Linked DNA regions of Homo sapiens. The protein of the gene in region 3 interacts with the protein of the main gene of each other region in a pairwise test. Each region holds a gene or a part of one and is shown on either strand. Other genes may lie near its edges. The genes, in order: KRT31, ADAMTSL4, JOSD1 and NOTCH2NLC.

Region 1 (6,935 bases), on a different chromosome or scaffold from region 3:
GCAGTCATGCATATTATCATACTAGAATGCAAAGACTTGGCAGTGCAATTTCAGTTTGTACATCAAACAACTCTTGCTACCAAACCATTTATGTTTTAAATGATGGCCATATTATGTTGTCTGAGTTCTGTTTGAGCATGTCTAGTGTGAAGGCATAATTTCCTTTCCAAGGTATGCAATATTTGCATGGTGTCTAACTGTTACACTCACACGTGCATCATTTCATCAAACACGTCTGCCCATGTACTCACTTGCAGTCCTCGCTCTCCAGCAGGCTCCGGTATGTGTTGATCTCACACTCCAGCCGGGCACGCACATCCAGCAGCACCTGGTACTCCTGGTTCTGCCGCTCCAGGTCACTGCGGATCTCCGCCAGCTGGGACTCCACGTTGGTGATCAGGCTCTGCACCTGGGACAGCTGGGAGCTGTAGCGGGCCTCACTCTCTGTCAGCGTGTTTTCCAGAGAGTCTCGCTGTGGTGGAGAAGATTGGGAATGTCAGAGAGCTGCTCCTTCAAAGGGTTTCTTCACAGGATTACAAGGAAGTCACAAGCTCCAAGAGCTAAGGAGAGTGTGTGGCCCCAAGCACATCCCCGGGACTCTGCCTCCCAAGTTCCCGTCGCTCACCAGCAGGTCTGAACAATACACACCAGGTTGTGCTGGGCCTGCAGCTCGATCTCCAGGGCGTTGACTGTGCGTCTCAGCTCGATGATCTCCGCCTGGTAGGACTGCAGCTGCTCTGAGCTGGATACCACCTGCTTGTTCAGCTCCTCGGTCTGAAACACCCAAGGGGAGAAAGGATCAGACCCTGCCTCCGGGGCCCTGGGGGGCCTTGGGTCCTGAGGGGCCACGTGCTTAGATGCCCACCTGCGTGGTGAACCATTGCTCCACTTCCCTGCGGTTGGTTTCCACCAGGGCCTCATACTGACTCCTGGTCTCGTTCAGCACCCGATTCAGGTCCACAGTGGGAGCAGCATCCACCTCCACATTGAGGCGGTCTCCAAGCTGGCAGCGCAGGGTATTGACCTCCTATGGATGCAGAAAATACAAGAGTTACTATGCTCAGCAAAGAATGAACTCTAAGGAATGGCATTGCTTGTTGAAACCCTGTTAGTCTATTTTCTCGGAAAAGAAACTTTGAGTGGAGCAGTTTGTGACAGCTCAAGGCACTCCATGTGGCATAGCCCCCTCCCCACCATCTGCTGTGCCATGGCACTTGGCTTCAGAAAAAAATCCCAAAAGTTTGCTTGGATGCCACTGAAGGATGAACTAATTGATATTCAACTTTCCCAGTTTACAATTGGCTGTGAGGACCTCAGAATGCCAAAAAAAATAGGCTGTGCAATTTCAGACCATATATCAAAAAACTCTTGCTGTCAAGTAAGAGGTAAGAGCATGTCATGGCCCCTCCCAAGAGAGAGGAAGAATCTCACAAACACTCTTCACCAATACTTTGAAAGAGTAGAGACTCACATTTATAAGGTTTGATATTTTTTTTCTTGGCCTTTGCCAAAAAAAAAAAAAAAAGACTTTACAAAGCAATAACACTGCAATGCTAGGACTCATTCTACAACTATTGATCAACTGCAAGCACATGGAGCTGCTCCGGGCAACTCAAATAATGTGCTAGTTTAAAGTGAAAGATGTTTCCTGTCTGGGAACATGAACAGGTCTTATCTCTCTCCAATTTTTCTCTTACCGTGATGTTTTCAAAGGAAACCCTCAGTCTTGTACTCATACTCTGCATTCTGCTGCCCCAAATCACTAAAGCAACCCTGAGCCAGAGGCTGAGACAGGTTTGTGCATTTCTCATTTCTAGTCTCACCTGCTCATGGTTGCTCTTGAGGCAGAGCAGCTCCTCCTTCAGGGACTCCACCTGGGCCTCCAGGTCGGACTTGCACAGGGTCAGCTCATCCAGGATCCTGCGCAGACCGTTGATGTCCGACTCCACCAGCTGCCGCAGGGACAGCTCGGTCTGGTACCTGCGCAAGGACAGGGTCAGAGTACTACCTGGTAGATCTTCAAGACTCACAGGAATGATTTTTGATAACCTCATGTGCCTTATCTTTCCACTTTCTGTAATGAATAGGCCCAGGAGACAGAGGTTTCTGGAGGCTCCATCAATACCCAATATTCATCCCAAAACAAACAGATTGATGTGAGTCCTCATCCATTTTTGCATTTCTTTGCTTGGTTCTCCCCAGTCCTCTGCAGAATCCTTCACAACAAGTGGGTAGATCTGTTTTCAGATGGAAATCCCTTTTCTTTAAAGATTAAACAGAAGCAATTGACACTAGTGCAAATTCCGAACAACTCACTTGGTTCTGAAATCATCCGCAGCCAGCTTGGCGTTGTCGATCTGCACCACAAGCCTGGCATTCTCAGACTTGGTACACAGGATCTGGGGAGTGAGAGGTGGCTTAGTGAGGACTGAAAATAAATATGAAATCATCAACTTTTTAAAAATGACTTAAGCCATTTTGAAATAAAAGAGGAAGCAAGAATTATGACAGCACAGAAGCAAGAAACACACTTCTCTATCACAGACAGAATCACAGCAAACTCTCTTGCTTGGAGATGACAGCAATGCCGCTCACCTTCTGCTGGAGCTCCTCAATGGTCTTAAAATAGGACTGGTAACTGGGGCACAGCAAGGGCTCCTGCTGCTGAGACCGCTCCCGGATGAGGTTCTCCAGCTCCGCGTTGTCCCGCTCCAGCTGACGCACTTTCTCCAGGTAGCTGGCCAGGCGGTCGTTCAGGAACTGCATAGTCTCCTTCTCGCTACCATTGAAGGAGCCCTCGCAGAACCAGTTGCAGTTGCTCACATTGGCGGGGATGTTGCAGGCCCCGGGCAGGGTGCAGCTGTGGCAGCTGGGGGGCACGCAGGGCCGGGAGGAGCAGCTGGTGCGGCAGCTCAGGCTGGGCAGGCAGAAGTTGTAGGGCATAGTGCTGGGAGGGAGGGAGGGAGTGCCTGGCTGAAGACAGAGTCTAAATTCTCCAAGCCACAGAGCTGTGGGTCTCCTTCCTCTAGGGAGCATTTATATCCCACTGCAGAGGGTGTGGACACAGTATGTAATGTCTTTTTTCTTTTTATTTCTTCACTTCTTTTCAAACGCCCTTTCCTTCAGTCTGTTATTTGCCTTCCTCTGAAGAGTCCCTTCTCCCATAAAATTCTTTACTTGGGCTTCTTGCTAAGTCAGGACTCCTCCGCAGACAGTCCACCCATGAAATCAGAGTTCTGTGGTAGGCCTTCAAAGAGGCTACACAGTCCAGCCCAAGTATCTGCCCTCATTAATTGAGGTGTTGATCCATCCGATGACATTCTTTTGTGTCACATAATTCTGCAGGCCCATAAACATACTCATGTCCTGGTCCACCTGCCGTTTCTAGGGAGAAACACGGATTGATTTGAGGAAGAAGTTGCATTAAGAGGCCACAGTGGACTGTCTTTCCCTCTGCATTTAGAGAAGAATCTTCAAATGATGGAGCATTCTGTGCCTTGGAAGCCTTAAGGTGGATGATTAGAATCAATGGAGGACACGACTGAAAAGATTAGACAGCGATTTGTGTTTTACGGGTCCGTGTAATACTTCCCCCCCACCACCACATATTACTTAAGAAAATTGTAGAGGAGAGAATTTTAAAGGTAGAGGCTTTGATAACTAGTTGGAGAACAAGAAGTTTCTGGGGTAAGAGATCGTTTTGAAAGAGGCTGAAAAGTGCAAACCGAGAGAGCCATAAAAAACACATTTAAGGCTGGGCACAATGGCTCACGCCTGTAATCTCAATACTTTGGGAGGCCGAGGCCGGCGGATCACGAGGTCTAGAGATAGAGACCATCCTGGCCAACATAGTGAAACCCATCTCTACTAAAAATACAAAAAAATTAGCTGGGCATGGTGGCACCCACCTGTAGTCCCAGCTACTCGGGAAGCTGAGGCAGGAGAATCACTTGAACCTGGGAGGTGAAGGTTGCAGTAAGCCGAGATGGTGCCACTGCACTCCAGCCTGGTGACAGAGCAAGACTCCATCTCAAAATACAAAACAAAACAAAAAAAATGCATTTAAATAATCTAGGAAAGATATTCAGGGGCAGAGAGAAAGGAATAAGGAGGTCTTTGTCAAACATTTCCTAAGGTTATCCATAGTATCCGAACAGAGTAGATGGATATGTTAGGAAAGTCAGGAGATAGCCCAAAGGGGCCTCCACGGCCTGAAATCACTTGTAGTTGATCTTTAAACTTCATATGAATTGACCCTATATTCCATAATATATCCATGTTGGCTTTAATCTTTATATATATATATATATATATATTTTTTTTTTTTTTTCAGATGGAGTCTTGCTCTGTCACCCAGGCTGGAGTGCAGTGGAGCGATCTCGGCTCACTGCAAGCTCCGCCTCCCAGATTCATGCCATTCTCCTGCCTCAGCCTCCTGAGTAGCTAGGACTACAGGTGCCCACCACCACGCCCGGCTAATTTTTTGTATTTTTAGTAGAGATGGAGTTTCACCGTGTTAGCAAGGATGGTCTCAATCTCCTGACCTCGTGATCCACCCGCCTCAGCCTCCCAAAGTGCTGGGATTACAGGCGTGAGCCACCGCGCCCAGCCAGCTTTAATGTTTTTAAAAAGCCCCTTTTAAATTTCCAGTTAAACTTTCAAATACTTTGCTTAATTCTCTAAGAGAAATGGATACATCAGGAAGATGTACCATATTCTGTCCTGGGCTTCCCATCTCCAGCCCGAGTGGAGATGCCACCTGCTTTAAGAACCAAAGGTCTAAAGGTACCAAAGGAGGTCTCTGTGGTTGTGTAATTAAATCCAAGGACCTGGGCACCAGGAAAGAAAATGCTGAGCACGGCATGAGCAAGGGGGTTTTGCAAGGCAAGCTGGAGTCATTTGGGGTTGCTTTGGGAGGTGAAGGAAGGCACTAGAAGATCTGAGGAAGAGGTAGCCAAAGTTCTGAATATATAAAAGTTGCAGCACCCCCATCTCCACTGTGGCTTTGGCTGCCAGCCAGAGCTGCCGTTTTATTGACAATTTATTGGAGTGCTTCTCCCATTGAGCTTTCATGATGGTATTCATGTTGCACTCTGCTTGAGTCTCAGATAAAAGGTCCTTCATCTACACTCCCCAAGACCATTATCACTGCTTATTATAATGCCATTCAGATGAAAAGCCCCACAGCACTACAAAGAAGATCTAGACTTATAATAAAATCAATACTTTCGTTTCCTTACAAGACAATTAAAGGGGGAGAAATAGGCGGGTCTACAGACTGTTACTCCTGAGACTCTCCAGAGGAAGGACGCAAGGCTAGGTGGCAGCTGTCTGTGGGGAGCTTCTGTCTCATTTCATCTGGGCTTGGGATGAATGGAAAGGCTCGTGCATCTGATTGATGAGCACTAGCTTGTAGATGACAGCATAGGCCTTCTGCTTCCTAACTCTTGTCAGCCTGCTCCAAGCACTGGCTTTCCAGCAAGCAGCTATTTCCTCAGCCCTTTCTTCTTCCCCAGTCAGGCAGGCTTTAACCTAAGCCCAAACTAAATGCCAGCAGTATTCTCCAAGCTCTTGATTCCTATCTACTGATTGGCTGGCATAGCCTCATGGAGACTGTAGTCAAAGAAGAGTGTTTAGGCTCTAAGTATGAGAAGATTCAAGGATTGTATTGACAAGAGAGCAAACATAGAATTTTTGTACAATGCAGAGAGATCAGAGAAATGGAAAGAGACGGAGACCAGGAGAGACAACAAGAAAAAGAAGAGACAAGGAAAAAAGTTGGGAGGAATCCTCAGCATCATGCAGCAAATCAGACAAAGTTAGCCCAGCTTCCGAGGGGCTAACCTGGAAAATGCAAAGCTGAGAAGAAGCCAAGACAAAATAAGCCAATAGACTGAGGAGTGGCCCACCGTGCTGAGTGTCCTGCAAGGCGTAAATGGAGTTGACTCATAAAAGATCTATGGACACAGGACTACAGCTTCTGAGGCCTCTGAAAGAAGTGACATTGTTCCAAGCTGTCCAGACCGAAGCATCACCTCTGTGATCAAGCTTGAGATTGTTTGTGGCTGAGAAATATACTGCCATCTACACACAGGCAGTGTAAAGTCTAAAAGGAGCGACACTGCCTGTTCCTGAAGGAATAAGAAGTGGGAAGAGAAGAAAGGAGAAATGAAGCAGGGAGAGTCAGTCCTGCACTGGCTGCAGGTCATGGCCAGTCAGCAGCCACACAGAAGATGTAGGAGAGAACAAGAAACCCCTGTTATCTTCTGGTTACTCCTAGATATTCCTTTTTCTACCTGCTGGTTGCCCTGCAGAATGTGAAATGGCACAAGAATTCAAGATGGGGACCACAGACAGACTAGCTGGTGAGTAAACACAATGCTGCCATCTCTTGTGAATCTAGCCTCTTTCTTGCAGTGTTTTCAAGATCTCAATGGGCTTGAGTGAATTTGCTCCTTGAATTAGTGGGGAAAATGGGACCCCAGGGTTGTAAGATCCCCATGACCTCACACAGGCGAGGGGTAGAATTCATGTATTCTCTTGGTTTCCTAGTTGGAATATTTGCAAATTTTTTTCATTCAAGGAGAAATTGAGCAGTCAATGGGCTATCAAACCCACATTCATTATCCAGTTCAATTTAATTCAGAACACATTGATTAGACAGCTTCTCTATGCTGAGCATATGACTAAACAGAAGAATCATAGTTCTGGTGAAAAAAATGTCTTTTTATGAACAATTCCGGCCAAGATGGGTCCTCAATATGTATGAGAAATAGCCAGAAGTTAAGGAAAGGAGATATTTAGAAGGTGTAAGATGGGCATTTAGAAATATGTTTGTATTCAGTGTAAATAGAAAACGGGTACTGGGTGCAGTGGCTTGCATCTGTAATCTCAGCACTTTGGGAGGCTGAGGTGGGAGAATCACTTGAGCCCAT
Region 2 (7,026 bases), on a different chromosome or scaffold from region 3:
GACAGGGCTGCAGGGCAGGGGGCCTGGGGAGGTGAGAACAGTTGCTCGGAGAAGTCACGTTGAACTCCGTCCCCAGTTTGGATACACAGATGATGTCTCTACGCTGTGTGCCAGAGCCACATTCGGAGGAGCACTAGTGTAGGGGGAGGGCAGGGTGATGAGGGGAGGGGAGGACAGAGAGCACCCCAAGTGCCCACAAGGAATCCCACTGGGACTGGCACCCCCTTCCTGCTCTCAGCAGGCGCTCAGCTTACCTCACCCCAGGGCCCTGTGTACCAGCGCCAAGTTCTCTCACAGGGCCCCAGGCTGCAGGCGCGCATGTCAGGGGGCCGGCTTCCTGTTGGACAGCTCTGCCCAGTTCCTGCTCCTGCTTCCCCCTGGCCTGGCCCGAGGGCTGCCCCACTCCCAAGGCAGACCACAGAGCGCCGCTGGATTCCCGTCCCACACTCGGCTGAGCACTGCGGAGGAGGAGAGCGGCCTGTGTGAGGGGCCTGCTGGTGACTGGCACAAGGGACAGTAGGGGGGCAGGGAGGGACGCATCCTGGGTCCGAATCCTGGGTGGTTGGGAATGTCCCCGGGTACCAGGCCCGGACGAGGAATCCTAGCCGGGCCCCTCATGGAAGTTGTTCTCACTTATCTCTGAGTTCCCAGGGTCAGGCATATAGCAGGCGCTTGATCAATACAAGTTTATTGAGCTATGCTGGAAAGGCTGAGGTGTCCTGGGCGTGGTTACCCAGGATGCAGGATATGGCTGGGGGTTCCGGGCTCACCTTGGAGCTCCAGTCGCTGTGGAACCAGGCAGTAGTACAGGGCCCCATGTCACAGGCCTCTCTGCTGGGGGGCTGCGGGGGGCCTGACGCACACTCCTGCTCGCTCACTTCATCACCATTGTTCCCAACACAGCGAACCTGCCGGCTTCTCTGGCCCCGGCCGCACCGCACGGAGCACTGAGGGGGCGAGGGGAATCCAGGGAGCTGGGCTTCCCAGACCTTCTCAGCCAGCTTCCAGCTCTAGGCTTCAGAACCAGGCTCTGCCTTCGATCCCCAGCCCAGCAGTCACATGGCTTCGTGGGCTGAGGAGGAGGCTGAGCCCTAGGGCCCTGGGCCCCCAGTCCCTGGTTCAGTCCCTTATCTGACTTCTATATTGGGGGTCCATATGAAACCCTGTTTGTAAATAGTTTCTGCTGATGAAAAAGAAGTTGAAAAACCACTGCTGTTGTTCACCTGTGCCCATTCCCCTCCCCAGCACCTCCTTGCCTGGGCAAACTCACCTGGCTCCAAGGAGAGCCAACTTCCCAATGGCCACAGAGGCGCAGCTGGCAAGACTGGGTGATGTTGGGCCGGGGGAGATGTCCACAGCGCTCCGGGGGCACCGAGGAGCCACCCCCCCCAAATTCCTGCCGGCACTGCAGCTGGCGGTGCTGGGTGCCGGGGCCACAGGAGCGGCTGCAGGATGTCCACTCGCCAGCCTCCCAGCTGCAGGCACCAGCAGGGCAGGGAAGAGGCGGAGACATAGATGAGATGTGTGGGGCTGCCGTGGCAGCAGAGATGGAAGACACACTGGACGTGGGGGCCTCAGAGGAGAGTGGGCACGTTTGGCGTTTGGAGTCTGGGTTCCTGGGGGGCTCAGCCTGCCATGGCTTTCTTGCTGCCTACCGAATGTCTGCCTTTCTAATCTAATGTTGTCTCTCTGCAGCCAGGAGATGTTGCGTTGAGTGCAGAGTTCAGGTAAGATTCTGGGGGCAACTGCTGTGTTTCCAGTACCCTAACCCTCCCCGTGGGCTCCCCCATACTCACTATGGGGGGCATGGGGTGCCGTGGCAGGGTTCAGGGGAGGCTGGGGGCCTGGCACCCGCGGCACAGCTGCGTTCATCCAGTTCCTCTCCCGACTCACGGGAGATGCAGAGGAAAATGGGGCGCCAGACACCTGAGTGGGTGAGAAGGCAGCCAGGGAGGCAGGAGGCTAGAGCCCAAGCTCAGTGGTGTCCCAGACGCAGGGTCGGGCGTGGCCCCACAATCCAGGATGCGGGAGTGTCAGTTGGGGGGTTTGGACCGAGATGCGGGGAACGCACTGTGATGTCTCACCTTTCCCGCAGGACGCTGAGCATGCAGAGTGTCCCACTCGTTTCCAGTACGCAGCTGGAGACCCCAGGGGTGTCCTGGGATGGGGCGGGGCGGGCATCTGGGGGATCCGCACCTGACGCTGGAGGGTGCCTGGGGTCCGGGCTGGGCGGGGTGCCGGAGCAAGTGGGGGCTCCACCCTCAGAATCTCTGTGCAGGGGAGCAGGCGAATCAGATGCCACCCCACTGCCCCGAGCCAGCCCTGCAGCCTCTCCCTCCTCCTTCCAAGTGCAGGGGTCAGAGTCTTACCCGGCTGAAGCTGGGGGACAGGGGGCTCTGGGGTGGGGTTCTCAAGGATTGGAGGAGGTGAAGAGATGACATACTGATAAAAAACGCCTGGGTTTTCCTCCTGAAAGATCATCTGGGGAGAAGAGAAGATAATGAATATGTGGGGGTGGCCAGAAGAGGATGCCACCAGCTCTCTCTCCCATCTTGACAACCACAGCTCTGCCCAGAGGGAACAGCCTCCCTCCCCAGCATTCAGCTGCCCCTGGCCCCAGGCTCACATAGACATCCACAGGCTGGGTGGTGGGGCCTTCAGCCGACAGACTCTCCCCTTTGCCCTCCTCCCTGGGAGGACGGTTATATCGAAAGACGGTCCCGCCGGCCCTGTAGGACCCAGGGGGATCCACAGCCCAGTTCCCATTGATGATGGACCGGCCCCCAGGGCCACGAAGTGCTGCGGGTCAGAGGTGAGAGATCGGGAAATTCCAGGGTGATAATACCTTCCTCCTCCCACACCGTGTCCTTAGCCTATAGAAGCTCCCACCAGAACCTAAGATCCCCCCAAGCCCTCTCAGCTTCCTCACTCCTTCCACGAGGGGAGGGGCTAGGCCCTGGACTTCCCCCTGTTTGGCTTGCTCACTGCTCTGAGTAGGGGTATGGAGGGCCGAACAGAGACGGAAGTGGAAGGGGAGGCAGCTGGGTGCTCACCCAGGTAGTTGGAGCTAGGCCGGAGCTGGGCAATCTGGAGCCGCAAGGCTCCCGCTGGAATCCACAAGATCTTCTGATAGCCCAGGGGGCCCCCTCGGTCAGTGAGGTTCCCCGAAACAAGGCGACAGGTAGAATCATCACCCCCACAGACTCCACAGCCATCAGGACGCCTGCCAGAGCCAAGGATCCCATCACAGCCGGGGCTCTGGAGAGAGTGAGGTGAGGCAGTGGCCACAGAACGCCAGACACCACCTCAACCCCACCCCGGTCCCCTCGGGAGCCTCAGCTCACTACCCTGCTTTTTGTGCCACAAGTGAGAGCACAAAAACAGCCCCACCATCCCCAGCCAGACCCAGGGACATGGACAGGTGCCCGATCAGATCCTTCAGGCTCTGCTCAGCGCAGCTTGGCAGGTGAGAATTCTCCCTCAGTGATCTCAGTATGGTGTTTTGTTGTTGAATTGAGACTGTGCAAATACGTGTGTGTGCATGTGTGCATGTGTTCATGCATGTGTGTCTACATGTGTGTGCATGTGTCTGCATACGTGTGTGTGCATGTGTTCATGCACGTGTGCACATGTGCATGCATGTGTCTGCATATGCATGTGCATGTGTGTGCATATGCGTGTGTGTGCGTGTGTGTGTGTGCGTGTGTGCATGTGTCTGTGCGCATATGCGTGTGTGTATGTGCTTGCATGTGTGCATGTGTTCATACATATGTGTGTACATGTGTATGCATATGGGGGCATGTGTCTGTGTGCATATGCATGTGTGTGTGCACACACACACTGTCTTCCCTCACCAGACAGCGTCCAGCCACACAGATGTCAGGGGCTCCAGGCTGACACAGGGTCCCATCCTGGACCTTTTCAGTGTGACGGACATAGAAGCGGAAGCCACGGGGCCGGCAGTTCAGTTCACAGCGCTGGGAGCCCTGGACTAAGGGACAGGGTAGAAGGGTGGTTAGTGGGCTCCCTGGTGGGAGGTTAGCTGAGAGAGGCCCCAGAGGGGGCACCTTGAGGTTGCCCAGGTCACTGTGGATGAAGGAAATGTGACAACAGCACAAGCTGAGGTGGTCAGGGCCGGGCGCAGTGGCTCATGCCTGTAATCCCAGCACTCTGGGAGGCCGAGGTGGGTGCATCATTCGGTCAGGAGTTCAAGACCAGCCTGGCCAACGTGGTGAAACCCCATCTCCACTACAAATACAAAAATTAGCCAGGCGTGGTGGCACATGCCTGTAGTCCCAGCTACTCGGGAGGCTGAGGCAGGAGAATTGCTTGAACCCAGGAAGCAGAGGTTGCAGTGAGCTGAGATCGTGCCACTGTACTCCAGCCTGGGTGACAGAGTGAGACTCTGTCTCAGAAAAAAAAAAAAAAAGGTGGTCAGGTCAGTTGAGGTCACCGAGACCATCAAGGGGACTCTGAACTGAGAGAGGAGCAATCCCTGATGCCCATGATTCTGTGTGTTCAGAGCTCTTGAGTGCTTATCCCGGTGTCAAGTTAACACAGGCCTAAAATGAAGCGGATGGTAACCTGGGAGCAACCGATACGACAGTGCCCAGGATGCGTGGCACACCCCCACCTGGCTGTCACGGCTGGACAGGATCTCTCCCACCATGGCCCTCTTGTGTCACAGCCACCTGACCCCCAGTGATGGCCTTCCCAGGGGAGTCCGGACAAAGCGTGTCTCCCACACCTCCTCCTCCCACCCCGACCCTTCTGCAGACCACTCACCACCTGTGCTGTCTCCTGACCCAGCCCCAGGGAGAAGAAAGAAGGCATGGCGCAGGGGAAGCAGAGGGGCTGGAAGTCATTCAGGGCTGGGAGTAAGCAGGTATCTCCTCTCCCCTTCATCCCCAATTCCAAGCCACCACTGCCCAGGGGTGAGCAAGAAACCTCACCTTCAGTGAAGGGCTCCCACTGATACAGCTGGCCCATGAATTCCTGGGAGTTAAAGGCTGCGCACTGCAGGGCCCGGGGGTCTGGCTGCTCAGGGGGGCAGGGCTGCGGTGAGGGGTACAAAGGAGTCAGAGCTGGGGAGCAAAATGAGGGTAGGGGCAGGGCTGAACCTGGGGAGCAGGTGGGAGGCTCAGGTCAGCGGAAGAGCTCCAAGACCCCTGCCCTGAGGTGGTCAGATGCCAAGGCCCTTCTCCCTCAGGTGCCAAGCGGAAGCTGAAGACCCAGCTTCAGGGCAGGGAAGCCACACTGGAGGTCGGGGTTGGGAGGGGAGGCCCGAGGAGACTCACCGCTTGGCTGCAGGCTCTTAGCTGTTCACTCTCCCCAGAACATCTTGGAATAGGGCTACTGGGAGCAAAGAGGCTCCAGAGGGAGCTGGCATGGGGGCCGTTGCTCAGCAGGGGCAGCCAGGCGCCCGGGTGCTGAGGGTCAGGCTCCAGGCGGGGCCCGTGAGGAGTCCCCCCCGTTCCCCAAGGCCCTTGGCCCTGCTGGCCTCGGCCCCGAGGGACCGAAGGAAAAGGATCAGGGCGTCTCCCTGCTACCTGGGGACTGGCCCAACCCTGGGAACTTGGCCTTCGTGGCTGAGGGGATGCACGGAAGAAGCCACCTTCTCCTAAGGAGTGCGTGGGTGAGGGGGGCTCTGTGCCAGAGGCCTGGGCTCTGGGGTGATGCCGTAGGGGGGCAGGCCTGGTTCTGGGGGCCACCTCTGTCTGAGCAGTTTCAGGGCTTAGAGGTTCTGCTTGGGGGGATGGGGTGTGGACAGACAGTTCTGTGGGAGGGAGCTCAGTTTGGGGGCTGCCGTTTGCGGAGAATGGCTCTGCTCTTGGAGTAGGGGACGGAATAGCCTCTTCCCCTCTAGAAGAGATCAGGGACAGCTCAGATCTGGGTGGGCTCCGAGGGTGCCTGCGGTTCCGGTGCAGTGGCAATGCAAAGGGCACTCTCCCATAACCGAACATTCCTGGCTTGATGGGGTCTCGAAGCCGGGACCTGAGAAGGTGTTTCAGATGTGGGGGCACAGCTCTGACCACCTCTGACCCTGTTTCCCCAGTTTACTTCCTGGCACCAAAGACAAGCCCTCTGAAGCCACCCGTGCTCCCCTTTCCTTCATGCTAAGCCCCCACCTTGCCCAAGGCCCACCTCTTCCACCCAGGCCTCTCACCTCCTGGCCGCTCGAATCTCCTGGGTCTCCTCTCTCCCTAGGTGGGAAGCGGGACCTCGAAGTGGGCCACCCCTTCCCCGAGACTGTGTCCTGTACAAGGGGAGGGTTTCTGGAGAAGTCTGGGGTCTGGGACCCTGGCCCCGGGGGAGGAGGGCTTCTGGATGTCTTGGGGGCCGGGGAGGGAGGGGCAGACTCGGGTGGAGCTGCACTGTAGGGAGCTGACATGTCCGGCTCCTGCGCTGCACCCCCACCCCGCAGGGCTGGGAGCAAGAGGCCCACTGGACCCAAGGTCCCCAGACACCTTCGGGGCCCTGGCCCTCCTCTGTAGGTGTCTGAAGAGAGTGTCCGGACAACACCTATATAGAGAAAAAGGTCAGACAGAATTGGAAGGATTAGAGGGAACTGTCCAGAGTGTCCATGTAGACCAACACTGAGGCTCACGGAGTCGCTACCAGTCCAAGGTCACATTCAGCAGCAGAGGGAGAACTACACCTCGGCCTCTTGGTGTTATGAGGCAAGGAACTGGGGAGTTGGCAGGGGAGGTGGGTGGGCTGTGGGGAATGGAGGCGTGGCCTGGAGAGATGGGGTGGGAGCCTAGGGGGAGATGAAAGGGTGGCAGGCAGGCTGCAGCTGCTCACTTGTCCAGAACTCACCTCCTGATCCAAGCAGAGCTGAGGGAGGGACAGAAGCAGCAGCAGATACAGCCAGGGCCTGCAAACCAAAGGCCAGGGGAGGGACGTCAGACTGGAGCCAGAGGGGGTGTTGCAACACTGCCCTCCGCCCCCAGCCGGCTCCCATATCCTGACTACCAACTTCTCAGAAAGCAGAAGTTACTCATCACTTCCCCTGCCCCTCCCAGT
Region 3 (7,026 bases):
TAAATAAATTCCAGAAACAAGATTCTGTGTATCCAGTCACACTCTGGTAGAAAAGTTTTCACTTCTGTACATTTGGCCCCTGATCTGACTATGGGAATAATGATAGGATCACTAACACACATGAACACTTGGTGCAAAGCACCGTTCTGAGTGCTTTCCTTGTGTCCACTCAGTCCTCACACTGATCTTCCAAGATGGATTCTGTTGCTGCCCATTTTTCCAGTTGAGGAAATCATGGCACAGAGTTCACAGCTATTGATGGCAGAATTTGGCCCCACGCCTTTTGACTCTAGAACCTGCCCCGCTAACCGCTCTCCTGTTTCTCGAGTACTGGAAGCGCCTGTAGAGTGCTATCAGTAGCTGTTCCTCCAGCTGCTGAGCTGGGCCAGCACTGACGTTCTGGACTGTGCTCATCAAGTGTGTGTGGATGATAACAAGAGTTTCTCAGCTTTGTTCTCCTGAATACAAGAATGCTAAATATTTGCTAAATGCCCACATGGAACTAAGATCCTATTCCTTTTGAAGCTTTAGCAAATTGTACTGCATTCCCCAATTCTAGCAGCATAATATAAAGATCCAAAAAGTGCTGGCAAGCCAGCACATAAGGGCATGTATTCTGTCCCAACTCCAGAAGTGGAATTCTGTGTAGAGTATTTTATATTGAAAGAATGTATGAGTAGGTAGGAACAAAAAATACAGAAGTGTGAAAGGAATCTAGAGGAAAAAGCAAAGGGAGAAGAGGTGAGGGAGAGAAGATGGAATTTTTTAAACAAACATTGACTAGCTGCCTGCAGAGTGCCAGGCACTATGAGGCACCATAGAGAAAACGAGTCGAACAGGCCTCAGCCCCTGAGAAGCACATCTCAGCTATGCTTTAACCAGGCCTTGAGACTAGATTTAAGTGAAGTTAGAACCCTGGCATTCAGAGCAATTAAAAAGTGAAAAGTGATCAATTTGGACCTTAGCAGATATAATTCTATGCTGTTTAAAAGTGTGGCTAGTGAATGGTAGAAATGGGAGGGAAATGTTGATAAGCACTATTTGTTGAGAGGAAGTTCATCCTAGCAGTTGAATTTTAGCCAGAAAAAAGAAGCAAAATACAAAAGCAGGGTGGAGTTTCAATAGAGTTGTGGATGTGAGATGATTCATGCTTACAAGTGAATAGGAACTCAGAGCTGAGCTAATGACTCAACATGGCGGCAACAAGGACAGGAAGAGAGGAGTCAGGTGTGTCAGAGGCTTGGTCCAGGATTTGAACATAGTGGTAACATCTGCAAAAAGAGGTCATTTGTTTAAAAAGCATCTGTTTTCAACCTGTGAAATTGGAGAAAAGATAAACTGGGCAAGTGTCATCAGTGTATATGTATACAGATGTAGATATTAGATCTCATCATTTTATATAAAGAATGTGGGCCAGGCACGGTGGCTCACGCATGTAATCCCAGCACTCTGGGAGGCAGAGGTGGGCACATCACCTGAGGTTAGGAGTTTGAGACCAGCCTGGCCAACATATAGCAAAACCATGTCTCTATTAAAAAAAACAAAAATTAGCTGGGGTGATGGCACACGCCTGTAGTCCCAGCTACTCGGGAAACTGAGGCAGGAGAATCACTTGAACCCAGGAGGTAGAGGTTGCAGTGAGCCAAGATCGCACCACTGTACTGTAGTGTGGGCAACAGAGTGAGACTCCCATCTCTCAAAAAAAAAAAGGGGGGGTATAAGGTTTGAAAAAAAGGGTCATAGAAATCAAATTACATGATGGCAGCTTTGCTAGGTGGTTTTGAAAATGCTCAGGCCTGAAACATTTTCACTAGACTCATCCCAGTTTTTTAGTGATCAGATTCTTACATCTAGTTCTGCATTCCTCTCCCAAATAGGATTTTTCCCCCCACCCGAGACGGAGTCTTGCTCTGTCTGCCTAGGCTGGATTGCAGTGGCGTGATCTGGGCTCACTGCAGCCTCCGCCTTCTGGGTTCAAGGAATCCTCCTGCCTCAGCCTCCTGAGTAGCTGAGAGTATAGACGCCCGCCACCACATCCGGCTAATTTTAGTATTTTTGGTAGAGACGGGGTTTCACCATGTTGGCCAGGCTGGTCTGAAACTCCTGACCTCGTGATCCACCCACCTTGGCCTCCCAAAGTGCTGGGATTACAGGCGTGAGCCACCGTGCCCGGCCTTGGATATTTAATATTAAAATTTAACCACGGCTGGGCTTGGTGGCTTATGCCTGTAATCCCAGCACTTTGGGAGGCCGAGTTGGGTGGATGGCTTCAGTCCAGCAGTTTGAGACCAGCCCGTGCAACATAGTGAGACCCTATCTCTACAAAAAATTTAAAAATTAGCTAGGCATGGGGGCTCGCGCCTGTAGTCCAGCTACTTGGGAGGCTGAGATAGGAGGATGGCTTGAGTCCAGGAGGTCGAGGCTGCAGTGAGCCATGTTCGTGCCACTGCATTCCAGCCTGGGCAAAAGAGTGAGACCTTATCTCAAAAAAAAAAAAAAAAAAAAACTAGGCAAAAAGTAGCTTGGTATCAAGGGAAAAAAATCTAATGAAAGTTGGAAGGAGCAAAGAGATTGGGGATATTGGTGAACAATTAGCATTCTCTACCACAGAGGATGACTATTCCAGCCTCCCCATTACATAGTCCTTGAGCAGGTGGAAGGGGCCACATTTAGAAGTATGGTGGTTATAACTGAGAAAAGTTGTTGTTAAGTATTAACCTCTAGAGACTTGAATTCTCTTGTCCAAGGGCTAGGCAAACACGTAGTAATAATAGCTAACACCTACGGATTACTAATGTGTGCCTAGCTCTTTGACCCATGCCTGATTTAGAAACATCAGGAAGTTCTGAGCCATATTTTCTGATGTCACATCTCTTCAGATCTGATAAGGAAAGAAAGAATTAGGGCGGGGAAAAGAATCTTGATGAAATGTCTCCTATCTCCTTTTTCATTAATATCCAAAATCATCACCATAGTCAGACACAGTGGAAACCATGAGAGAGGAACAAGGACTTATCTGAGGACACAGACAGTGGGGAGACCTGGACTAGAACCCGTCTTTTCACTTTTTTTTTTTTTTTTTTTTTTGAGACTGAGTCTCTCGCTCTCTTGTCCAGGCTGGATTGCAGTGGCATGATCTCGGCTCACTGCAAGCTCCGCCTCCCAGGTTCAGGCCATTCTCCTGCCTCAGCCTCCCAAGTAGCTGGAACTACAGGCGCCCACCACCACGCCCGGCTACTTTTTTGTATTTTTAGTAGAGATGGGGTTTCACCGTGTTAGCCAAGATGGTCTCGATCTTCTGACCTCATGAACCGTCCACCTCGGCCTCCCAGAGTGCTGGGATTACAGGCCTGAGCCACTGCGCCTGGCCCGTCTTTTCACTTTTACATCACTTCACATCTCATGGCTCTAACCTCTGGCTGTGGATGACAGAAGTGAGAGGCTCACTTTGTAGCCCAGAATTTCTATGGAAATCATTAAGACAGTCCCAAACAGGAGTTTGCCAAGGAGTCTCAAGAATACTTTCCACTGGAATCATCAGGATCCCATGGAACTCAGTGGGACTGGTGTGTTGAAATATCCAGAGCACTCTTCAGTATTGTCTTAGGGTAGAGGCTGACCCTAGCCCTGCCACTCACCAGCTGTGCCTGACTGTGCAAGTCACCATAACCTTTGCACCTCAGCTTCCATGTTTATGGTATCTCAAGATGGCTGGAAGTGATAAAGCCCATAAAAGCAGCTAACACAGTGGCCACTTGATTACTGTTAAAAGTACAAGCAAGTGCTGGTGTGGTGAATACGCTGGGTGGGCCCCACTTATTCAAATGACCATTCCTCTAGCATGAGATGGAAGCTACTCAATATTTCCTGTATTCAAATTGCCTAACGTGTTTATTGAGTTGCCAGTGCCTAGCTGTGAGGGATATAGAGTAAAAAACTATCCAGGGATTTAGTGTTTGATTGAACATATATGAAATAACTGAATTCTCCAACAGTCCTATAAAATAGTAATTATTTCCATTTTTACAGGCAAGGTAACAGGCATGGAGATTAAATCCCACAGTTAGTGTTGATCGGTGCTAGGATATGAACTCAGATATGTATGGTCCTCACTCTCCCTCCCTTTTTTACAGAGGATCCAGGGAAGATCCTATGGAAGAGATAGGGTGTGAAGGAGCTGTAGGATTTGGCTTGGAACAGGAAATAGGATAAAAGAATAGAGGCTGCTGGGCACAGTGGCTCAAGAGGGAGGCTGAGACAGGAGAATCAGTTGAGCCCAGGAGTTTGGGGCTACAGTGAGCCACAATCATACCACTGTAATCCAGCCTAGGTGACAGAGGAAGAAAAAATAGAATAAAGGCCATATGATCATGGTGCCTAAAGTGCACTAAGCCCAGTGAGAGGGATATAGCTGGCCAAGTGGGGCCAGGAAGTGTAGAACTGGCCAACCAGGCAGTTGGTACCATTGTCAGTTCCTATATATACAAAGGGAAGTGAATTGATGCCTTGGTGAATTTGGCAGGAACATAGAGGCTGAATTGGTGGAAGGAGCGCTTGGAAGCAAAGTGATCAATTTTTAGGAATCTGTTTCAGAAGTCAAGGTGTGAGGTAAGGAGCCTCTGGTTAGGAGAGAGATGGAGTGGTAATAGGAAAGGATTTGAATCCAAGACAGAAGATGAAGGACAGGGAAGAAAGATCATTGGAAAGCTAGTTCTGTAAGGTACACCTCAAAACAAATGTGTGGTCAAATTTGTTTGGGAACTGAAGCATATTTTATAATCCCCTTTCCTTGAGATTCAAAGTGAAGATTAGCATGTTAGGGACTCCAAGAATTCTGCAGGAAACCCATTTACCTACTTGGTTCATTCAGCTGTTATTGTATTGGATGCCTTCTGGGATCCTCTGTTAATGAACATGGAAATGGCATCTCCAGGAGCACCCTTGGGAAGCGCCGCTCTAAGGTTTGAGCCTGGTAGGGAGTTAGATGGTGAATGAGGTGGAAGACTCAGCATTTTCCTTGTTGGAGCCTTCATTCATGTACTGGTCAGAGACTTCAGTGAAAGGAACAAGAAACTTGGGAAAGGAACCAATTATATCAGGGGCTAGGCCTTCTTTCATATGTGTTCTGTTCTCTTTTTTTCTTTCTTTTTTTTTTTTTTTTTTTTTTTTGAGACAGAGTTTTGCTCTTGTTGCCCAGGCTGGAGTACAATGTCATGATCTTGGCTCACTGCAACCTCTGCCTCCCGGGTTCAAGCGATCCTCCTGCCTCAGCCTCCCGAGTAGCTGGGATTACAGGCACCTGCCACCACACCTGGCTAATTTTTTTGTATTTTTAGTAGAGATGGGGTTTCACTATGTTGGCCAAGCTGGTCTCAAACTCCTGGCCTCAAGTGATCCTCCCACCTCGGCCTCCCAAAGTGCTGGGATAACAGGCGTGAGCCACTGCACCTGGCAGTGTGTTCTCATTTAATCCAAACGTGTGAGTACCCATGGAGAGCCTTTGTCTTTTTAAGCTATGTTTCATCCCTAGTCCTCAGGGATGTAGCTGGCCTCTCTTCTTTTCAAGCCCCCATCCCCTGCCACTCTGATTCTTGGGTCCTTGCTGTAAGACAGCAAGCATAACTTTGGATTCAAATGAATCCACAGTGGAATCCTAGTTCTGTCACTTGCAAGTGCTCATGGGCAGGTCAGTTAAAACCACCAAACCTCAGTTTTATGGACCTATACAATAGAAATAATTCATATCCTCATAGGTTTATTGTGAAGATTAAATGAAATGCAAATTAAAGTACCTTATCATAGTGCTTGGCACAGAGATTTTTCAATAAGTTATAGTTATTATTACAGGTAAGATAAAGTTTGGTTGCAGATTTCTTTGCTAGCCCTGGAGATGAGCATATAAGCCCTTTTAAGAGTCAGTTACTGATGTTTACAGGGAAAGAGAAGGACAACAAAAATAAACACTGAACATTTCAGCAAACATTCCTTGAGCACCTGTCTTGTGCCAGGCACTCTTTAGGCCCCTAGCAGTGTAGCGTTCACAGATAGTCAAGGCCCCTGCTGTCAGTCTAGTGTAGAAAAACAGACCAATGAGAAACACATCTGGTAGTGACAGGGCTGTAATTAAATCAAAAGGTTGATGTGAGGTAGTGACTGGGAGAAACTTATGGTTGGGTGGTCAAGAAAAGGCCTCTCCGGAGGTTGTAGTAAGCTGAGATCACTCCATTGCACTCCAGCCTGGGCGACAGAGCCAGACTCTGTCTCAAAAAAAGAAAAAGAAAAGGCCTCTCTATGGCAGTAACATTTGACACCCAAACAATAAGGAACTACAGAAAGAACATTCTAGACAGCGGGAACAGTGAGTGCATGAGTGCACAGTGAGAAAAAGAGCTTTGTTTTTAGGGAACAGTAAGAAGGTCAGTGTAATAAAAGGTAAGAGATGAGATCTGCAGGACCTTGAGGGCCTTGCATGCCAAAGGAAGTAGTTTAGAGTGTATTTAAGTGCTTTAGGTGCCATCAGAAGGTTTTAAGCAGTGGCAGGAGTATGTTTGTTGTTTTTAATTCTGTGGGTTTTTTTTTTTTTTCTTTTTTTTTGAGACAGGGTCTTACTCTATCACCCAGGCTGGAGTGCAGTCATGGCTCACCACAGCCTTGACTTCCCTGGCTCAGGTGATCTTCCCACCTCAGCCTCCCGAGTAGCTGGGACCATAGGCACATGCCACCATGCCCGCCTAATTTTTGTATTTTTTGCAGAGACAGTGTTTTGCCATGTTGCCCAAGCTGGTCTCTAACTCCCAGGCTCAAGCGATACTCCCACCTTGGCCTCCCAAAGTGCTGGGATTGCAGGTGTGAGCCACCACTCCCGGCCAGGAGCATGGGGTTTTGTTTTGTTTTGTTTGTTGGTTTGTTTTTTGAGACGGAGTCTCACTCTGTCACCCAGGCTGGATGCAGTGGTGACATCCAGCCTCTGCCTCCTATGTTCGGCTCACTGCAGCCTCTGCCTCCTACGTTCAAGCAGTTAGCTGC
Region 4 (7,026 bases), on a different chromosome or scaffold from region 3:
CTGGAATGTCACACTCATTGACATCAGTCTCACACTTCTGCCCTGTGAAGCCTGTGAGGCATTTGCAGGAGAACTGGTTGGCCACAGTGGTACAGGTACTTCCATTTGCACAGGGATGAGACAGGCAGGCATCGGTCCATTGGCACTCCTTACCTAAAGGAAGGATAACAAAACTCAGTACTGGCCACAGAAATAGGAGATGGCCCCATCCTCAATACCTCATTGACATCAGCGAGCTCTTGCGTGGAGAAGACCTCAACTCTTTGCATTTTACTAAAGGCTAAATCAGAGCCTCCTCAAGGTCATCTGACACAGAGCCCTCTCCAGTAACTCTCCAAGGACCTCAGCAGAGACACAAGGACTCAGTGGGTGGAGCACCTGGAGGCAATTGTAGGTTAGTCACATTGAAGCCCAATCCTGCAGGACGCTATCAGCAATAGGAGTCTGGATCCATCTACTCTCTCAGAGCTGTCTTTGCATATGCTGCTCCTGTTTGAATATCAACTTCCGGGCCAGGAGCAGTGGCTCACACCTGTAATTCCAGCACTTTGGGAGGCCGAGGCAGGCAGATCATGAGGTAAGGAGTTCAAGACCAGCCCGGCCAATATGGTGAAACCCTGTCTCTACTAAAAATACAAAAATTAGCTGGGCATGGTGGCGCGCACCTGTAATCCCAGCTACTTGGAAGGCTGAGGCAGAAGAATCACTTGAACCCAGGAGGCGGAGGTTGCAGTGAGCCGAGATTGTACCACTGCACTCCAGCCTGGGCAACACAGCAAGACTCCATTTCAAAAAAAAAAAAAAAAAAAATCAACTTCCCGTCTGTTTTCCTAGTGAACTCTCCCTATCTTGGCAACTCTAAAGTTCCAACCTCTGTAAAGTCATCCTTAGTGCCCCTCACATACATACATGTGCGCAAACACAGATACACCAAGTTTGCTATTTTCTTCTATTATACCACCTGCCACACTGGCAGGGTTGGGTCTCCATGGTATGCTCTCAAATCATGTCTGTTGAATGGATAAAATATATCGATATTTTCCACAAAATATAGTTACTAAATAGACCTCTGGTGATAGAAACAAGTCAATACTACTTCTGTTTCCTCTAAATGTAACACACACATATATTCTGGGAAACATTTTATTAATTGTGGCCTTGCTATAAATATCTGTTGATGTGTTTGAAAATGATGAAGGACCTCTGGGTCCCTATATAACAAATGAAATAGAAGCCATCAGGAGGACAGAGGTCTCGAAGGTATTCCGTGGACTTTCTCAAGTAGGAAAGTACCAGCACTAGCAGGAAGACTCTGACGGGTTGAAAACTAAATCATGATGCCAGGGGAAGCAAAGCAGATTCTTTGAGGCAGAAAGAGAAAGAGAAAAAAATATCCTCACAGAACTAGTAAATTTGGTATTCACATGGCTGGCTTTTTGTTGTCATTAGTCTAAGTCGCTTATTATTTAAACTACAGAGATGAGAACTCCTTGAATTATTATTATTATTATTATTATACTTTAAGTTCTAGGGTACACGTGCACAACATGCAGGTTTGTTACATATGTATATATGTGCCATGTTGGTGTGCTGCACCCATTAACTCGTCATTTACATTAGGTACATCTCCTAATGCTATCCCTCCCCCGTCCCACCACCCCACGACAGGCCCCGGTTTGTGATGTTCCCCTTCCTGTGTCCAAGTGTTCTCATTGTTCAATTCCCACCTATGAGTGAGAACATGCGGTGTTTGGTTTTTTGTCCTTGCAATAGTTTGCTGAGAATGATGGTTTCCAGCTTCATCCATGTCCCTACAAAGGACATGAACTCATCCTTTTTTATGGCTGAATAGTATTCCATGGTGTATATGTGCCACATTTTCTTAATCCAGTCTATCACTGATGGACATTTGGGTTGGTTCCAAGTCTTTGCTATTGTGAATAGTGCCGCAAGAAACATACGTGTGCATGTGTCTTTATAGCAGCACGATTTATAATTCTTTGGGTATATACCCAGTAATGGGATGGCGAGAACTCCTTGAATTTGTTAATACTCCAGTTGACTGTCTAGGAAAGTATCTAAATCTCTGACCTCATAGAAAGGTAAATGGGAGACACAAGAGTTTTTCTATAAGGGAAAAAGATGCGAGATGTGACATATGAGCACAGAAAAGTGCTCTCTGCCTATCAAGGAATGTCAAATCAAAGGAGAAAACTATAACACAAATTTAGGCACAGCATATACATCTCAGGGAGCTAAGACAGAAAATGAAGGAACTGCAATTCTTCTTGTCTTTCCACTCATGTCACTAAGAGGCACTTATTTACAGTGGAGAAGAGATATAAATGCTCACTTCTAGCAAGTGTGATTTTCAGAGTGATGCCCACAACTGAAACGGAAAGATCCCTGGGCCGGAAGTGGTGGCTGATGCCTGTAATCCCAGCACTTTGGGAGGCTGAGGTGGGCAGATCACTTGTGGTTAGGAGTTTGAGACCAGCCTGGCCAACATGGTGAAACGCCATCTTTTCTAAAACTACAAAAATTTGCCGGGCTTCATAGCACATACCTGTAATCCCAGCTACCTGGGAGGCTGAGGCACAAGAATCACTCGAACCCAAGAGGTGGAGGTTGCAGTGAGCCGAGACTGCGCCACTGTACTAAGCAACAGAGTGAGAAGAAAGAAAGACAGAAAGAGAGAGGGAAAGAGAGAGAAAGAGAGAAAGAGAGAGAAAGAAAGAAAGAAAGAAAGAAAGAAAGAAAGAAAGAAAGAAAGAAAGAAAGAAAGAAAGGGAGAAAGAAAGAAAGAATCAACCCTGAATTTGGTTTCCATATACATTATGTATAGGCACTAACTTGCTGCCTATGCTTCTTCATCTCTGAGTGGAGATGAGCTAGTAAGCTGACTGAGGTATAGCGCTATCACAAAAACCAAAAGGATGACCTTGATCTGTGATGATTCCTAAAGTGATAGACAAAAATAGCATATGTATAAAAGATGATCAGAATCGGCCGGGTGTGGTGGCTCACACCTGTAATCCCAGCACTTTGGGAGGCCAAGGCGGGTGGATCATGAGGTCAGGCGATCCAGACCATTCTGGCTAACAAGGTGAAAGCCCATCTCTACTAAAAATACAAAAATTAGCCGGGCATGGCGGTAGGTGCCTGTAGTCCCAGCTACTCAGGAGGCTGAGGCAGAAGAATGGCGTGAACCCGGGAGGTGGAGCTTGCAGTGAACCGAGATTGCGCCCTGCACTCCAGCCTGGATGACAAAGCAATACTCCATCTCAAAAAAAAAAAAAAAAAAAAAAAAGGTGATCAGAATCTTGCAGAACACACCAAAAAGAGATCCTTCTTAATTTGGGACCATTTCAGAGTGACATTTTAATTATGAAGAAGGCATTACTGTCATTTCCACTAGCCAGAATTAAAATATTTTAAGTGGGTATATGCCCCCCTACTTTGCCTCCTAATAGCAAAACAACTCAAAACTGACAATCAGGAAGAAATTATTCTTATAACACCAAATATTTTCAGTGACTTACATCATCAATACCATCATCATCATGATGGAGATCATGGATCATCCTAACTACCCTCTACCCCACCAACACCTTTTGATGAATGATATGGTTTGGTAGTGTCCCCACCCAAATCTCAACTTGAATTGTATCTCCCAGAATTCCCATGTGTTGTGGGAGGGACCCAGTGGGGTAACTGTATCATGGGGGCCAGTCTTTCCTGTGCTATTCTCATGATAGTGAATAAGTCTCATGAGATCTGATGGGTTTCTCAGGGGTTCTGCTTTTGCTTCTTCCTAATTTTCTCTTGCCACCACCATGAAAGAAGTGCCTTTTGCCTCCCACCATAATTCTGAGGCCTCCCCAGCCATATGGAACTGTAAGTCCAATTAAACCTCTTTTCTTCCCGGTCTCGGGGATATCTTTATCAGCAGCGTGAAAATGGACTAATACAGTAAATTGGTACCAAGAGTGGGGTTTTTGCGAGAGTGCCAGCTATCCCGAGGGAAACTTTGGAGGGAACCAGCTACTAGATGGTTCAATTAGTCTTTCGCCCCTACACCCAGGTTGGATGACCGATTTGCACATCAGGACTGCTACGGACCTCCACCAGAGTTTCCTCTGGCTTTGCCCTGCCCAGGCAGAGTTCACCACCTTTCAGGTCCTAACATTTGTGCTCATGCCCCACCTTCCCAGTGCAGAAAACAAGATGGGCCGGTGGAAAGCTGACCTGGCTACTGCCACCGCAGAGTGCCCAATTTGCCAGCAGCAGAAACCAACACTGCGCCTTTGATATGGCACTATTCCTCAGGGTGATCAGCCAGCTACTTGGTGGCAGGTTGATTATGTTGGACTTCTTCCATTGTGAAAAGGGCAGATGTTTGTCTTTACTGGAATAAACACTTACTCTGGATATGGGTTTGCCTATCCTGCATGCAATGGTTCTGCCAAGACTACCATCCGCGGACTCATGGAATGCCTTATCCACTGTCATGGTATTCCACACAGCATTGCCTCTGACCAAGGCATTCACTTTATGGCTAAAGAAGTGCAGCAGTGGGCTCATGCTCATGGAATTCACTGGTCTTACCATGTTCCCCAACATCCTGAAGCAGAACGGTGGAATGGCCTTTTGCAGTCACAATTACAATGCCAACTAGGTGAGAATACTTTGCAGGGTTGGGGCAAAGTTCTCAAGAAGGCTGTGTATGCTCTGAATCAGCGTCCAATATGTGGTACTGTTTCTCCCATAGCCAGGATTCACAGGTCCAGGAATCAAGGGGTGGAAATGGAAGTGGTACCACTCACCATCACCCCTAGTGATCCACTAGCAAAATGTTTGCTTCCTGTTCCCGCAACATTAAGTTCTGCTGGCCTAGAGGTCTTAGTTCCAGAGGGAGGAACGCTGCCACCAGAAGACACAACAACAATTCCATTAAACTGGTAGTTAAGATTGCCACCAGGACACTTTGGGTTCCTACCTTTAAGTAAACAGGCTAAGAAAGGCGTTACAGTGTTGGCTGGGACATCAAGGCTATCAAGACCCAGGCTATCAAGATGAAATCAGTCTACTACTCCAGAACGGAGGTAAGAAAGAGTATTCATGGAATACAGGAGATCCATTAGGGCGTCTCTTAGTATTACCATGCCCTGTGATTAAGGTCAATGGGCAACTACAACAGCCCAATCCAGGCGGGACTACAAATGGTCCCGCCTGGATGAATGAAGGTTTGGGCCTCTCCATCAGGAAAAAAAAAAACACAACCTGCTGAGGTGTTTGCTGAAGGCAAAAGGAATACAAAATGGGTAGAAGAAGGTAGTCATCAATACCAGCTACTACCATGTGACCAGCTGCAGAAATGAGGACTGTAATTGTCCTCAGTATTTCCTCCTTCTTTTATTAAAAACATGTCTGTGCTTGCACACACTTGTACTAAGAAAATATCTTCATTTTATTTCCTTTCTCCTTTATCATGTGACATAAGATTTATTGACTTCACATCAGCATTTAAGTATCGTTAACTTTATGTAAGAGTGTTTCAGTTGGGGACTGGTGTGTTTCCGGATGTACGAAGAATAGTTGTACTACATCAGGTGTAATTATGACCTAATTATTGTCTTTATTTGAAGATTATGTGTGATCTCAGGAGATGTGTATGGGTTCAAGTTGACAAGGGGTAGATTTGTGGTGGTTAAAACTGAGTGTGTCAACTTGATTGAATTGAAGGATACAAAGTATTGATCTTGGGTGTGTCTGTGAAGGTGTTGCCAAAGGAGATTAACATTTGAGTCAGTGGGCTGGGGAAGGCAGACCCACCCTTAATCTGGATGGACACCATTTGATCATCTGTCAGCAAATATAAAGCAGGCAGAAAAACATGAAAAAGCGAGACTGGCCTAGCCTCCCAGCCTACATCTTTTTCCCGTGCTGGATGTTTCCTGCCCTCAAATATCGAACCCCAAGTTCTTCGGTTTTGGAACTCAAGACTGGCTCTCCTTGCTCCTCAGCCTGCAGACAGCCTATTGTGGGACCTCGTGATCATGTGAATTAATACTTAACAAACTCTCCTTTATATATATATAAAGATTGCCAATATATATATATTAAGATTGCCACCAAGACACTTTGGGTTGGAATATATATACATACATATATATTCCATTAGTTCCATCCCTCTAGAGAACCCTAATACAATGAAAAATTAATATAACAGTATTCTACACTAACTGATCCAGTATAGTCTTCTGAGTACATTTTTCACTTTTTTGCTTATTGCATTTATAGAACTCTTGGTTTAGTGCTTAAAGCAGGAGAAAAAATGAAGAATGTTCCTCCTTTTCTCATCTAATTTAATAAACACTTTTGAATAAAGCTCAGACCCACCTAGAAAAACCCACAATCTATTCAGGTGAGATATGTGTAAAAAAAATTACAATAAAATGTGATACATAAAACTAATAAAACTTAGAGACCATTTGCCTAAAGGAATCATGAAAGGGTCACTAAGACACAGTTTTAAATAACATTGGACAATCACCAGTTGTAGAAAAGGGCATTCCAGGCAAAAGGGTGTGTAACTGTATGGAAGCAATAATAAGTACAACATTTTCAGGAAATAAGGAGAATTTGGTGTGACTAGGCCTAGATGCTTGTGGGGAGGCCAGGCTATAAAAAGATGTAAAGTCTAGGCTGTAGAGAGCTATGGAAGTCATGTAAAAGAGTTTGCAGTTTATTCTGCGGATGATGAAAAAATATTAGACATTGTAAGCAGGTGAGATTGTTAGAATATTTGCATTTATAATCAAAGATGTAGTAATATCATGGGTGAATGAGATGGGGAGAGAATAAAGGCAAGAAAACGTATTCAGAAACTACTTCAGAAGCCCAGGTGAGAGATAACATGGCCTTCAGCTACAGGGTAGCAGAGGAAATGGGAGGAATAGACAGGTGAAAGGCAACTCAGAGGTTGGCTTGGGTGACTGAGTTGAAATGAGGTCAGAACAAGGG

The links.
Region 1: the proteins of JOSD1 (region 3) and KRT31 interact in binary tests that used the Homo sapiens proteins (3 or more experiments, as listed by UniProt).
Region 2: the proteins of JOSD1 (region 3) and ADAMTSL4 interact in binary tests that used the Homo sapiens proteins (3 or more experiments, as listed by UniProt).
Region 4: the proteins of JOSD1 (region 3) and NOTCH2NLC interact in binary tests that used the Homo sapiens proteins (3 or more experiments, as listed by UniProt).

Annotation. Positions count from the first base shown.
Region 1 is NC_000017.11:41,394,597-41,401,531, forward strand, and holds the start of KRT31 (keratin, type I cuticular Ha1), read right to left. Parts: upstream 3,013-6,935; 5' UTR 2,944-3,012; coding exon 2,596-2,943; intron 2,400-2,595; coding exon 2,317-2,399; intron 1,981-2,316; coding exon 1,824-1,980; intron 1,028-1,823; coding exon 866-1,027; intron 775-865; coding exon 649-774; intron 473-648; coding exon 252-472; intron 1-251.
Region 2 is NC_000001.11:150,552,394-150,559,419, reverse strand, and holds part of ADAMTSL4 (ADAMTS-like protein 4 isoform 1 precursor), read right to left. Parts: intron 6,878-7,026; coding exon 6,820-6,877; intron 6,682-6,819; exon of another isoform or gene 6,523-6,681; coding exon 6,167-6,522; intron 5,995-6,166; coding exon 5,298-5,994; intron 5,292-5,297; exon of another isoform or gene 5,056-5,291; coding exon 4,953-5,055; intron 4,886-4,952; exon of another isoform or gene 4,855-4,885; coding exon of another isoform or gene 4,786-4,854; exon of another isoform or gene 4,688-4,785; intron 3,992-4,687; coding exon 3,855-3,991; intron 3,467-3,854; exon of another isoform or gene 3,368-3,466; intron 3,273-3,367; exon of another isoform or gene 3,259-3,272; coding exon 3,054-3,258; intron 2,813-3,053; exon of another isoform or gene 2,800-2,812; coding exon 2,627-2,799; intron 2,482-2,626; coding exon 2,370-2,481; intron 2,271-2,369; coding exon 2,085-2,270; intron 1,927-2,084; coding exon 1,797-1,926; intron 1,728-1,796; exon of another isoform or gene 1,696-1,727; intron 1,476-1,695; coding exon 1,271-1,475; intron 1,184-1,270; coding exon of another isoform or gene 1,128-1,183; exon of another isoform or gene 948-1,127; coding exon 771-947; coding exon of another isoform or gene 696-770; exon of another isoform or gene 672-695; and 4 more. UniProt on the Homo sapiens protein: Positive regulation of apoptosis. May facilitate FBN1 microfibril biogenesis.
Region 3 is NC_000022.11:38,690,925-38,697,950, reverse strand, and holds part of JOSD1 (josephin-1), read left to right. Parts: intron 1-7,026.
Region 4 is NC_000001.11:149,456,618-149,463,643, reverse strand, and holds part of NOTCH2NLC (notch homolog 2 N-terminal-like protein C), read right to left. Parts: intron 154-7,026; coding exon 1-153. UniProt on the Homo sapiens protein: Human-specific protein that promotes neural progenitor proliferation and evolutionary expansion of the brain neocortex by regulating the Notch signaling pathway.